2 separate regions of the Homo sapiens genome follow, and region 2 is linked to region 1. Evidence: fine-mapped expression QTL. A gene starts in region 1. The other region holds a variant in brackets. All regions are shown on one strand. Distances are from middle to middle.

What was found. PIP is the estimated chance that this variant, and not a neighbour inherited with it, causes the effect.
Region 2: its variant is fine-mapped to the expression of CTSK in whole blood (INTERVAL, PIP 0.97).

The regions. Positions count from the first base shown.
Region 1 is chr1:150,806,608-150,809,374 of GRCh38, forward strand. CTSK (cathepsin K) reads right to left here and starts at 1,653. Exons shown (of 8, transcript NM_000396.4): 1 at 1,607-1,653; 2 at 79-199. The coding sequence starts at 198.
Region 2 is chr1:150,833,445-150,836,478 of GRCh38, forward strand. ARNT (aryl hydrocarbon receptor nuclear translocator) reads right to left here. Exons shown (of 22, transcript NM_001668.4): 7 at 2,836-3,034; 8 at 1,094-1,196. Among named protein-coding and RNA genes, the nearest start is that of CTSK, 27 kb to the left of the region's middle. RefSeq lists an enhancer at 2,897-3,034 and a cis regulatory region at 2,969. The variant C/CAA (reference allele first, on the strand shown) is at 1,694.

The DNA of each region.
Region 1 (2,767 bases):
AGAAGGGAGTCTGGAAGCTAAGATGAGAGAGCTCAGGTCTCAGCCTTCCTGCCATGCCCCCTCCAGGACCCCAGGCACCTTGTTGTTATATTGCTTCCTGTGGGTCTTCTTCCATAGCTCCCAGTGGGTGTCCAGTATCTCCTCAGGGTACAGAGCAAAGCTCACCACAGGTAGCAGCAGAACCTTGAGCCCCCACATCCTGCAGAAGAATGTAGTTAGGGAAAACTCTTCCATTTGGCAGGGAAACAGAGGAAAACTAGGCTTTATGAGGAAGAGAAAGGTAGACGGAAAAAGGGTGATAAAACAATGATAGTCAGGAGGGGCCTGTGTTTAGATAGGATGCTGGTACATCTGGTTCCAAGGACTTTGATCTAGGGGGATTTAGCCATTTCTCTCTTTCTCTCTCTCTCTCTCTCTCGGGAGATTTAGGCAACACACACTCTCTCTGTTTCTCTCTCTGTCTCTCTCTCTCTCACACACACACACACACACACACACACACACACACACACACACACGTACACAACCAGAAATGGGGGATAGAAACTGGACAATCAGAATGGGCTCAGTGCGTTTCCTCCAGGGTCCCTAGCAGGCTTGGAGACAGACAAATAGCAAGGTGGTAGTGGGGTTCAGAATACACAAAGGAGAGATTTCCGTCTAAGTTTTGCCTCCTGATCATTTCTTCGAGGCGTTCTTCTCTTTCGTGCCTAAATTCTGGTACTTTCCCAGATCTTGTCAGAAGAGGACAAGGGAAAATAGGACAATGTTTCCTGTTTTCTGAGACATTGTATATCTCCTCATTCTCCTTATGCATTTCTTCTTCCTTTTTCTCTCCCTTCCCTCCTTAGGCAGGAAACTGCCCTAATCTTAACCAGATGCTGCGGGCAAGGTTTTTTATTTTTCCCCTAACAACAAAAACCCACTGTGGCTGCCGCAAAGGACAAGAAGCCTCAGATCCAAGGTTTGTTAGAAGAATGTTCAGACTGAAAAGCAATGTTCTATGATGATGAAATTCACAGCTTTTCATAAGTTTACTCTAGTTAGCTTCACTCATTTCTTGCATTGGCTTTCTTAATTACAAATCCTCCATTTTAAGAACAATTTGCAGCCTGCAGCATGACATATGGCTTACACAATTGCTTATAGTCCATTTACATGTAATTTTGCAAACTGGCAAAATGTCCAGTAGGACATTTAAAAACTAGAGTGTTAAGGGCTTTGAGATGTCTCAGTGAACAGGAAGCACTGAGCTACTACCTCCCCATACCACTCTCCTCCTCCTCACTAAGGAGTTAACCGTTTTGATCCTTGTTGGCCAAAGTAGAAAACACTGCAGAAAGGCCACTCTTGAAGGATGGGGAAATGATTCCCTATATACTTTGCTTTTACTAACAATCATGTATGTATATATATAAATCATACAAGGAATTCTACAGATTTCCAGGCAGATTTTATTTAGCCAGGGAATGACCTAAGAAGTGCATCTCTGTTTTCATCTGCAGAGGCTAAAAGTTTATTGTGATCCTCAAGTCACTACATCCCTAATACTCAGAGAATTGACAGGAATGAAAAGCTAAAAGATCTAGGAAGTTGCAAACGTTACCTGCTGATGGAAATCTGTTGTCTGGCTTCGTTTCGGCAGCAAAGTGTGGGCACACCATCAGGGGTGCTAGATTTATTCCATCGGGATTGCGGAAGTCAGCTCCAGTGATCGGCTGGAAAATTTGGGTAAGAGGAGGAGGCGGGGATAGAAATGCTGAGAGAAGGAAGGGTAGGGAGGAGGGAAGGAGGCAGTGGATTTGCAGTGTTTCTGTGTGTATGCAGCATGTGTGCCAGGGTAGGGAATTACTAGCTATTTAGTCTCACAAGACTGTCTTTGGTGGCAAATAACAAGACCTCAATATCTATTGACTCAAATAGGAGCTTACTTTCTCTTTTGGTGAGTAAAAGGAAGGACACAGCCCTAGTCTCTCCCATCCTTCTTCTTCAATATCTTTATTTTAATATTGGGGGATTATATCTTTTCCTACCCCTTTCCTGTTAGGATTTACCTCTCCAACATTGAAACCTATTTTCATATTTGTGTCTGACTCTCACCTCTGGGATGCGGTAATGAACATAAAAGGCTATAAAAGAATAATGTAATGGAAGCCATAGGCTCCAGAATTCTTTGTATTTTTATAAGCTTGTTGGTTGCAAGTTGTCATTACTTCCAGGCAGAATAGTTTTCCCAGCCTAATGTGGTTTTGCTGAAGGAGGATATGCCCAGAAAGTCCAGATGAAACTGTCTTTAAAAGTAACCAAAAACAGCAGTCCTGGTTATTTATGACAGCACTTGAATCAATGCCGTAAGTTCTGATGGACTCACATGTGACTCTGTTGCTAAAACTCTCAGGTGGTGGGATGCCCGATAAACATCATCTGTCTCAATTAAAATCCCCAATCTAGGACAAGTCACATGAGCTTCTCCAAATGCTTCCCCAACATCCAAGCATGTGACAGATCATAAGAATCTAGCTGATTCCTCAAACCACACCCCAAACTTCATTTTCTTCCATAAACAGATGTGGGGAAGGAGAAAAAAAGGCTTCTTGGAATAGAAAGGATAATAAATGGGATCTGTAATAGACTCAGTTTCTAGCTGGATTCCATGCATAAACCCTCAAAAATACAGGCTTATGCCTCTGGATTTTAAGAGCTGCTAACAGGCTAGGCGCAGTGGTTCACGCCTGTAATCCCAGGCCTTTGGGAGGCCAAAGCATGT
Region 2 (3,034 bases), 27 kb after region 1:
TCATGCCACTGCACTCCAGCCTGGGCAACAGAGCAAGACTCTGTCTCAAAAAAATAAATAAATAAAAATAAAAATAAATCACTAAACCACATAATGTTCAATTTTGTGCCTCTCCAAGCAAACCTTTAATATCCTACCCATAATTTCTAGCAACTATCCTCTCAGTACAATGTAGTCAATTTCCATTATATAGCCTGAACTTTGTGACCCTGAGATGCCTTTTGTACCTGTATAGAAAGGACCACCATATTTTCTACAGAATCCTAAAACGTACAGTATATAATTTATAAACACTAAACACCTACTGAAAGACATAGGAAGTCTCAAATTTCTAACCAAAAAAAAAAAGAAGAAATGGTCTGAGTAAATGGATATTGCCTTGTGTTGTAACAGGGAAAAAGTAGAGGTTTTGTAGTCAGACTACTATGAATTAAAACAAAATCCTGTATCAAACAGTATGTAACAGTGGGAAATTCATTTCTTTTTCTTTTTCTTTTTTTTTTTTTTGAGACAGAGTTTCACTCTTTTTGCCTAGGCTGGAGTGTAATGGCACAATCTCGGCTCACTGCAACCTCCACCTCCTGGGTTCAAGCAATTGTCCTGCCTCAGCCTCCAAGTGGCTGGGATTATGGGCGCACGCCACCACGCCCGTCTAATTTTGTTGTTGTTTTTTTTTAGTAGAGATGGGGTTTCACCATGTTGGCCAGGCTGGTCTCAAACTCCTGACCTCAGGTGATCCACTCGCCTCAGCCTCCTAAAGTGCTGGGATTACAGCCTTGAGCCACTGCACCTGGCCAAGTTCATTTCTTTATATCTGTTTTTCCATCTGCAAAATGGTAACCATCAATCTTACACTACAAGGCAATTGTGAGGATAAAATAAGATGACAGATATAAAGCACCTATCATAGTGTCTGGCAAGTTCAGAAACGTTAGTTCCCTTTCCAAATACTTTATTCTGTGTTACAATCCATCTGGGTATGGAGAGTTAAATTTAATCCACTGGAGCTAATCCAACTTAACTCTGACAGAAATAAAACTCTCAGCTCTTGATCCTTCCTATACCAAATCACAATCCTCAGCTTGACACTCACCTCATTCGGCAAATAAACGATCTCCTTGAGCCCATACACATTCTCATGGAAGACTGCTGACCTTCCTTTTTCACTGTTCCAGTCTTTAGATCCAGGATACGCCCTGAAGGAAGATGTGAAGAGCAGTCTGGAGTGCATTTTTGTGTGTGGGGAAGAGGGGGAGAGATACTGAAGGCAAAGATAAGTAAGCATCCTATTCATGCCCTTAATCTCCTTGCTTATAACAGAACTGACCAAGCAGGAGATGAATTTTTTTTCAAGCCTAAAATACTTCAATTATCATCAATGAATCTCACTCTTAAGTTCAAAGGCAGCATTGAAAATAACATTGTGCAAGGAAAAGTAGGAGTGGAAAGTAGTAGTAGAAAACAAGAGGCAAGGCTATATTCTCATAGCTGATTATCTGTATACACATACAGACATACATACAGAGTAAATGTCATTGGTTGAAAAACAAGTACTTTTCTGTAGTCCCAGCTAATCAGGAGGCTGAGGCAGGAGGACTGCTTGAGGGCAGGAGTTTGAGGCTGTAGTGTGCTATGACTGTGCCTGTGAAGAGTCACTGTACTCTAGCCTCAGCAATAAAGCAAGACCTTGTCT[C/CAA]AAAAAAAAAAAAAAGAATAAAAAGAAAAAATTTTAAAAAGAAAAAAACCAAGTAATTTTATATGTTATAGAAACATATAGATCTGTTTGTCTTCTTTATTATACAGAAACGAAGAACAACTTTTGGGGAAAAGGAAGAACTAGAAAAATGAAATCATAAAAACATAAAGGAGGGGAAAACTGGTCAAGTGTGGTGGCTCATGCCGATAATCCCAGCCCTTTGAGAAGCCAAGATGGGAGGAGGAATGCTGAAGGCCAGGAGTTTGAGACCAGTCTGGGCAACAGACAGAACCTGTCTCTACAAAAAATTTAAAAATTGGTCAAGTGTGGTGACATGAACTACTCCTAGCTACTCAAGAAGCTGTAAGCAGGCAGATTACTGAGCCCAGAAGAGTTCAAGATTACAGTAAGCTATGATGTGCCACCGTACTCCAGCCTAGGCAAGAGAGAGACCCTGTCTCTTTTTTGGGTGGGAAAAAAGGAGGAAAACTAAAGATCAACAACACTAATATGAGTATATTGAAATTTCTTGCATTTTAACTACCAGTTTTTTTATCTGCTTCCACTTTAAATTTTTTTCTAGAGTTGCTCAAGAATAGATATGACTTGTTTCCTCTAGCCAAACTCTGGCCAAAAGACTGAACATAATAAAATAGGGGAGAAAAAAAGAACAACAGTACAGATACAAACAACAACAACAACAACAACAGAAAACACCTTATACATTGACCAATAACCATATCTATAGAATAAAAAGCTGTTATCATTGAACCTAGCACAAAGCCAAGCACCAGGAGGTAGAAAAAATACCAGATAATTATCCATACAAATGAGATAAAAACATGGATAATTCTTTTAGAACGGAAAAAAAAAAGTATTGTAGGTTTGGCTTTTACTGTTCTATTTATACCAATATTAAGATAAATGTAAAATATTATCACCAATGAAATATTTTCTAAGGCTGAGCCACAAAGTAGATAATCTCATATGGATAAAAAGAACTGACTATATTCATTAAAGTAGAAAATTCTTGAAGCCTTGCCAGAGTCAACAAACCAATTTAACAGCTAAAACATCTCTTAAGTCTCAGGAAAAAAACAAGAAAGGACTTCTCATTCATTTCCCATACACATAACTCTCACCTGTCAGGGCATTTTCTGAAGTGGAAAGCTGCTCACGAAGTTTATCCACATCATCTGGGTGCACCTGATCATAGAGTGTGCTGCCAAACCATTCAGACTGTGGCTGGTTCAAAACAGGAGTCACGGAGTCAGACACATACACCACCCTGCCTGTCTCACATGAGACAATAAACAGAAAGCCATCTGCTGCCTCCAAGAT